Linked DNA regions of Homo sapiens: regions 1 and 3 are each linked to region 2. The links come from fine-mapping of genetic effects on gene expression. A gene starts in region 2. Each other region holds a variant in brackets. All regions are shown on one strand. Distances are from middle to middle.

Region 1 (2,767 bases), 24 kb after region 2:
TATACTGGATTAATAACTAGTCTTTGAGGTACTATTTATGTTTCTAATTTTATAACTGACCAAAACCTCTTTAAAGTAACTTTAAAGATTCTGCCTTGAACTGAGAGTACTTGAAACAGTCATCTGCTTTACTTTTCAGGTAATTATGGAAAATATTTTAAACTCTAGAAGCTTCAATAATGATGTGTGATTGGATGGAATTGAATCAAACTGAAAAAGTATTTCCTTATAGCTTAATGGTATTGAAAATGTCATTTTATTGATGATTTTGAGATTATTTGTGTTTATGTTGGTATTCATTATAATAACTGGGATCAGCCCTTATAATACTCTTTTCCTTTTCCTCACCCAGTATAAGTTATTGTATTGGTGAGCATTTATTATACTTTATTTTCTTTTGTGGAAGTAATTTGATATCTTGTACTGGTGACCTGTCTTTTTCCCTACCTTGACTGTAAAGAATTTAGTAACATTTATTAGGAAAATGAGTTATAATTTATTAGGTGTATATAAATGGGCTAGCAAGAAAAAGATATTCTTTATCTGAAATCTGTTTTAAAAAGTACTAAGAATTATTCCAATTTGCTTTTAGTAGAAGCAGTATATTTCTTTTAAGGAAATTGTCTTATATAATTTACTTGAATTTTTATTTATTAAAGTTATGTTTGGAAACTTATGTTGTAACCTTCAGTCTACTGGGGTAGAATTCTGATTGAGGTAGTTCCCTTAGAGCTTATCCAAGATACTGTTAGGTATACCCTCTGTTTCCTGTGGTTCTGAACTCTTACTTTATCCTAAAATATTCTCAAGTTTCTCCTGTTTTAAAAGTACAAAACTTTTTTTTTTGGCAAATCTGTAGAGGTTCTCTAGCTACCACTTTGTTTTCCTTTTCCATTTGCCAAAATGCTTCTTGAAAAACTAGTATAACTTCTTGTCTCCTCTTCTTCATCTTTCACTCTCTTCTGGCCATTATTTTCCAGCTTCTGTGCCTATCATTCTGTTGAAAACGCTAACAAAGGCCACAGATTTATAGCATTTGACAGTGTTGACCTTCATACAGCTGCTCTTGGTTTCCTTGACAGTGGTCTTGGCAGGTGGTACTTTTACTTTTTTGTTTCTTCTCAGTCTACTTGATGCCCTGCAATTTTCTTTGATTTATGTTTATATATTGTTTTTTTCCAGGCGTCTACCTATCTTTGAGCACTTCTCCGTCACACTGCATGTTTTTCAGAGTCATGTCGTTCTTCTTTTGATTTTATAAGAATAATTATAGAGCAAACATGTAACTGCCTCCTAAGTGAACAAAAAGAATGTTATTCAGCCTTATGGAGTCAGTATAAGATTATATGCTGATAACTCCAAAGTCTGTATATTCTGGCCTTCAACTACCTGCTGAATGTCCCCACTGCGTATCTTTTTCTGAAAGTTCTGCAGGTACCTCAAGGTACATCAAGATTGATATATCTTAAATGAATCTAATCTTTTTTCTTAAGCTTGTTTTTCTTCCTGGTTTCTCTGATATTAATCACTGGTGTCATCATCCTAAACTATCATGTCTCCTAAACAAGGAACTTACGAGCTTCTTTAGCCTTCCTTCCACTCCCACTTTAACTTTCATTAGCAATGTCTCCATTTTGCCTCCCTTC[C/T]TCATGGTCACAACTGCGGCATTTCCCAAGTTCGCTCTCTTCATTTCTGTTTCATTTATCTGATTCATACTATCTCTACACAGGACTGTTTACTGCTGGAAGAAAGGAACCATATTCTCTTCAACTCTATCTTACTACAAAAATCTTCGTACTTGAAAATATCGAATGAGTGTTTTAAGGCAGTTTTACTTGGAAGTTGACAGAACAAGATAAGTTAGACATCAGTACATTTTACTGTTATGTTGAAATTAAAATAACTATTTACTTGTATACATAAAATTAAGATTTTAAATGAAAGCAAATTTTGAATAAATGTAGGTTTCAGTGAGTTAAAACATTACTTTTCCTAAATGACAGAAAATAAGAATACTCTGTTTAATACTTTCTCTCTTCCTTTTTCTTTCCCTTCAGGAAAGGCTACTAGGAAAAACCAGAAGTGGAGAGGACCAGATGAAAACATTAGGGCCAATCTTCGTCAATATGGTTTAGAGAAGTATTACCTTGATGTCCTGGTTTCAGATGCATCTAAACCTTCCTGGAGGAAGGGCACATATTTTGATGCAATCATTACTGATCGTAAGTTTATTTTTATACAAAAGTAGGAGTAGGATTCGTTTTGTAAAATCATTTACATTTAAAGTACAAAATTTACCAACACATGCACAAAATGCCAACTTGTCAGTATTTCTCCCATCTACCCCCAGCTTCTTCATCTTGTAAGGAGAAAGTTATGAAGGTACTTAACTACCTTGTTAAGGGCTTACTGTTTTGTTTTTTTAAACAAATATATTGGCTTGCCATCCCCTGTTATATCCTTTTATATTAACTTGTCACCCGTTTTTCCCTTCAGCTTATTTTTTTGAGGCATATATTTAGTATTTGTTTTTGTATTGACTATAATTGGTTATTATACCAACTGGAGCTCACATGTCATTTGCAATTATGGTGTCAAATTTTGAACAGAGTTTCAGATATCACACATTTCTCTATGTGTAAGCATTTGTGTTTTTGTAGTGCCTGTTTTCACTGGCATCTCCTTTCTAGCATTACAAGAAATTTGGGGTTCTGTGGAACCACTGGGCCTGTGAACCTACTGAGCTTCAGGAATGTGCATGAAAATT
Region 2 (2,767 bases):
TTGTCTCTATATAGCATCATATTAATCCAGGCATGAAAATCAGCAATTCTTTGATATTCTCTATAAAGTTGCCCCATCAAAATTCCATATTAATTTTGCTGAAGATTTGACAAGTTCTGGGGATGGGGCATATCAAGTACTGCACATCATTTCCCCAACATCTCATTGGTTTTCTGTCCCAACCTTGGCCTCTCTTCTCAAATAGTAAACAACTTTTCTTGTCTCAAAGTACTTTTACCCCCTTTTCTGAAGTTTTGGGGTCAAGAGACAGCTATGCTTCTCAGAGTCACTTAGCACAAGTGAACTTGAGACATATTCCTAACAAAAACAGATCTCTTGCTAACAAAAATTCTCATGTGATTTTCTTAAGAAAAATGTCAAGTGCCACTTATTGGCCCCATTCAATATGCCAGATGTTATATTCAACACTTTATGAACATTATTCCACTTAATCCTTGTAACAATCCTTTGCAGGAGGCAGTGTGTTTTTCCATTTTTAAAAGAAAACTCAAGCTCGGAGAGGTTAAGAGCATATACATGGTAAATGGTGGAAGTGAGGTTTGAATCTAATATTGACACCACAGCCTATGTTCTTAATCACTACCACTGCGCATCAACTACGTTTCTGGCACATGCCGCTGGGGATATGCCAGATACATACTCTTTTGCACCTTGTACAATACCACAGAGAAATGCAAAATAAATAATTTTTAATAGGGCAAAGGGCTCGGTACTCTCAAAAGCAGAAATAGCCCAGAGGGAGGGCTTGAGCCCGTAATTCTAGCACTTTGGGAGACTAGGGTAGGAGTATCCCCTGAGACCAGGAGTTCAAGGTTACAGTGAGCTATGATTGCGCCACTGCACTCACCTGGGTGACAGAGCAAGATTGTCTTAAAAAAAAAAAGTCACATATATACATAGAATATGCAATTAAAATATATTTCATAAACTATCTGCTATGAAATCTGTGCCAGTGTGAGCTTTCTCCAAGTTTTAATTTATGGCTGGCTGTGGATTTAGTCCTGAGTCTAACAAATAACACAACCTAATAATTATTGCCTACTTTGAGGAAGATATTCTTTTGGTTTTTGTTAAGAATAGAGTGAACCATAAAAGATTATATCAGACCTCAAGAGTTTATTATAATTGGGTTATAAGGCATGTGCTCTCGAAAAGTTGTTACATAAATACGAAAAATATACTGTTAAATGACTGGCCCAACTAAATCAGTTCCCAAAGCTGTGCTGGTTAGACAAACCTACAAGGAAATGGTGAAATTTCCAAGGAAATGGTGAAATTTCAGTCCAATTTTGAAGAACAGGTTTTGAAGGGCTGTAGAGAAAGCTGGAAGCACACTCCAAGTGGAACGATAACTTGGAAATATACTGTCTTATTATCACAGGCTGCTCCTGAAAGCCACGCGTCCCCGCTCACCAGCTACCAGCGCTGGGAGACCCCTAACCACCAGGCATTCACAGGTGAGGAAGCCCCTCCCACAGCGGCCGGAGTTTCGGACTCGGAGCGCGAGAAACGTCGGGATAGCGCCTGCCTCGCAGAGCTTCCGCTTCCGGCCCTTCAGGCTCTGTCTCTGTGGAGACTGGGCTTTGGGAGGGAGAAAGAGGGACCTAGCGCGGGCCGCGCAGGCGCACGGTGGGCAGCTGCAATGGCGCTGTCGTGTACCCTTAACAGGTATCTGCTCCTCATGGCGCAGGAGCATCTGGAGTTCCGCCTGCCGGTGAGTCCGTAGCGCCCTCCGGAACTTCCGACGGAAGAGGACGCTGGAGTGGAGTGGAGTGGGTGGAGGTGATCTGCATAGCCCGAGGAAGCTGGGATTCGGGGGTCTTCGCTGGTCTGCGCGGGTCACGCGTCCCCAGTCCTCGGGCGGGGTGAGCTTGGCGGAGGGTGTGTGTGAGAGAAGTCCGAGACCAAACCCCTCGGCCTGCTTAAACTTTTCATTCTTTTGCCCGTGTATCAAGTACCGGAGTTAGGCAGGTGAATATGACCGGTCATCTCACTCCCGGAGCTCTTCGTCTAGCGGAGAATAGAGACAGCTAACAAATGCTCAGGCTGGTGTTTGAAGTATTGGAATCTGCGGATCAAGCTCAGTGGAGGGGATGGTGGTGGGGATTAGATGATGGAGAAGTTGAGAAGAGTGTTTTATTTATTCAAGAAACGTTTTCAGAATGCATGTAGTCGAAGATCGGTACGCTGGGCATGTAACGATGATGTAAGCAATCTCTGCCCTCTAGGAGCTTACTGTTTAGAGTAAGGGCTGAGCAGACACATAGGCGTAGAATGACAAAAGAGCGTCGGTAAGTGCAGTGATAGATGCACATGGAAATATGAGAGCACGTGGAAGGGAAATCTAATCTACCTGAGGGGTTGGGGATGTTGGCCTTTAAGAGGGCTTCCAGAGGAGATGACACTTGAAATAAAGGATGAATAGGAGTTAGAGGGCCAAGGAGATAAATCAGTAAATTAGAATTACAAGGTGTTCATTATTACTGGATCACTAGTTATGTGGCAGAGTGGTAAGAAGAGAGCAAGGGAAGTAGATCGAGGCCAGAAAATGAAAACCTTGAGTACCCTGGAGCTTGGAAGGGGGATTTATTGAAAAGCCTTAAGTAAAAAAGTGACCACAAAATTAAATCAGTTTGACAACACTATGGAGGATGGATTTGAAAAGAATAAGACTTGAGCCAGAGACTAGGAGTCTGTGGGAATAGTCTTGTTAATAGATTAAGAAGGTCTGACCTAGGGCAAGGAG
Region 3 (2,767 bases), 68 kb after region 2:
CTGCCAGGAAAGTCATGAGGTCTGATGACATTTAAGTCTACAGTCTTATCTTTTGGACCAAAATAAATGAACAAAGATCTAGTTTTTGATCTTGCATTTGTTAGCTTGTTTTCTCTCTTAGTTTTGGAGAAACAGATCAAGAACCTGAAAACAGGAGAACCATGTTTTTGCCTCCAGTCTGTCTTTCTGAACCCAAAGAGAAGCTCTTTCATGATCCTAAGTGGGTTCCTAAGGAAACAAGAAGGGCAGGACTGGTGCTGTGTGATGAATCAGCTTTCTGGGGAAGACCTGACCCATTTCTGCTAGGGGTAAATGGCCCAGAAGACTTGCTCCTATGGCGGGGGATGTCACCTGATGCATTGGAACCTAAGGCTAGACCTTGAAGTGTACCAAGTTCATCTCTGTGTCCTTTTTTTTTTGCCTCTCAACAAGGAATTAGACATAGTCCTATCCTCAATGAGCTCATGGTCTGGAGGATGGCGGTGGTATGAAACAAAGAGGTAAGTAGTCAGTTAAAATAGTGTGATCCGTCTTTCCACAGGGCAAGCCCAGTGTGAGTCTAAGAGGAGCACCTAGCCACTTCTAACAGTGGTAGTGTATTAACCATGTGTTTCTGATGTTTTGACATCTGGGGCTTTGCTGACCCTGGAGAGACCAGAACCAGCCAATTCCTAGAGATAAAGGTTTCACCTTCCTTCAAGTGTGTCTTTTATAGAAACTAAACAGTCCAGAGTCCACTCACTCTATTTCCTCTTTTATACAGCTTTTATGCTTTGGGTCACTATTTCTCAGACCTAATCACTTTTGGGCCAGGTACCAGGTAACTTAGGGACAACCCCTATACCCCAGAGCCTGCTGAGATTATTCAAACTAGCTAATCCTATGCCTGCTTATCCTGCCTTACCTGTTCCTTCCTCTGGAAACCACAATAAAGGCTCTTGTCCACATTTTCCCCTCCCCTCTGCCTCCTGAACGACCCTGGTCCTTCCCCACATGGCCCTGCATGGCGTGGTGTGTCCTCTCGAGAGCTTCGAGGAACAAACTGTCTTTTCAATTAAAATTGTCTTGTGATCTGTTGGTCTCACCATACCTGAATAATAATAAAACCTACATTTAAAAACACGTGAGAGAGGACTGGATCAAGGAAGAAGCCTGAGAGATGACATCTAAGTTAACCCCTAAAGAAGTGGAAGTTGCGTGATCATGTCAGGGGGTGAGGGCGGGAAGGGGGATTCCAGGCAGAGAGAATAGCACTGGAAAAGCATATTTGGGTAACAGTTCAACTAGTTGGTGTGCCAGGAGCTAAATGCATTAGCCAAAGAGGAGAAATGAAGCTGGACAGGTCATGAGAGCCAGATCCTAAAGGACTCATACGCCCTGCTGCAGAATCTGCACTTAATTCTGGGAGAAGCCCACTCCCTGTGACCTCCTCTCCCCTTTGGTAATGCCAAGGCTCTTTGGGAAGTTTTAATTTCTTTCAAAATGGTGTCCTTGGCTGAAGTGCTTGAGTTCCTTGACAAAGGGTGCCTGTAAAGAGGGAGTCTGTGGCTTTGCCTTTGCTCCAGGGTCTGTTTCTGCCTTGGTTCTAGGTCTCAGTTAATGCTGTCTTCTAAGTTGGGTGAATTGCATAGCTGAGGCTGCTTGAATTAAGGCATTGACACCACAAAGCTTCCATTTCCCCATCTATAGAGCCCCCCTAGGTGCCCAGTTACACTGTGGTAAGAGATTGCCCAGATAAGTACAG[T/C]AGAAACCTTCCTGACCCTGACTGACAGATACTTGCTCCAGAGCCAAGAAACAGTCACATGTTGGCCTCCTGCACCGAGGGAGATGATTTTTATTGATTTCGCTCTTCACACAGTGCTGACGGTGTAGGCCTGCTGAAGAGCAAGCTGATGAAAATAAAGATTGTGGGTTGCCAGCTCATGTTTGTCCTTATCTCCAAGGCAAAATACAAACACTGTTTCAGGGAGCTGCTTCTCCGCTCCAAGACAAATGAGCTGTTGAAGTGTCATGATTTTAAAATCTGGTGATATACATAAAGGATATTTTACTGATCAACCTCAAGGAATCTGTCATAAATAAAAAATAGTTTGTGATTCAAGCACTGTTGCCTATTTCAGAACTTCACCTTGGAGCCCACTCTGCTGTCTTCTGAGACACAGGGTGCTCCCTGAAAGAAAACAGCTCAGAACTCCCAACACGTCTCTTTCGCATCTTTCCTTGAAGATTCTTACCAAGAGCAACCAGGCTTTTTGAGTCACCATATGCTGACGAACATTTTTGTTGTTTTTTGAGACAGGGTCTGGCTCTATAGCCCAGGTTGTAGTGTAGTGGTGCAGTCTTAGCTCACTGCAGCCACAACTTCCTGGGTTTAAGCAATCCTCCCGCCTCAACCTCCTGAGAAGCTGGGACTACAGGCACATGGCACTTCACTCATCTAAGTTTTATATGTTTTGTAGAGACAGGGTTTCTCCATGTTGTCCAGGCTGGTCTTGAACTCTTGGGCTGAACTGATCCCCTTGCCTCGGCCTCCCAAAGTGCTATGATTACAGGCATGAGCCACTGTGCCTGGCCTTTACGACCTTTTAAAAACCCATTACTAATGAGGATGAGAGGAAGGACAGCATGGAATCCTCTAGCCCTTGCTTGTGGCCCGCCTGGTTTTCTCTAACACTCCCTGCCTGCTTCTCCTTCACTATTTACTGCATGCCTGGCATATGCCAGCCAGCAACCACTATGAACATCAGATGAATAAAAGATACATGTC

What was found. PIP is the estimated chance that this variant, and not a neighbour inherited with it, causes the effect. A credible set is the group of variants that fine-mapping cannot tell apart.
Region 1: its variant is the best candidate, but not a certain one, in a credible set for the expression of TRMT11 in cerebellar hemisphere (GTEx, PIP 0.67).
Region 3: its variant is the best candidate, but not a certain one, in a credible set for the expression of TRMT11 in cerebral cortex (GTEx, PIP 0.77).

What each region holds. Positions count from the first base shown.
Region 1 is chr6:126,009,196-126,011,962 of GRCh38, forward strand. It overlaps TRMT11 (tRNA methyltransferase 11), which reads left to right. Exons shown (of 13, transcript NM_001031712.3): 9 at 2,058-2,222. Among named protein-coding and RNA genes, the nearest start is that of TRMT11, 24 kb to the left of the region's middle. The variant C/T (reference allele first, on the strand shown) is at 1,647.
Region 2 is chr6:125,984,888-125,987,654 of GRCh38, forward strand. It overlaps TRMT11 (tRNA methyltransferase 11), which reads left to right and starts at 1,653. Exons shown (of 13, transcript NM_001031712.3): 1 at 1,653-1,735. The coding sequence starts at 1,664. RefSeq lists enhancers at 876-1,706, 1,684-2,173, 1,707-2,536.
Region 3 is chr6:126,052,691-126,055,457 of GRCh38, forward strand. It overlaps a transcript of TRMT11 not described here. Among named protein-coding and RNA genes, the nearest start is that of TRMT11, 68 kb to the left of the region's middle. The variant T/C (reference allele first, on the strand shown) is at 1,745.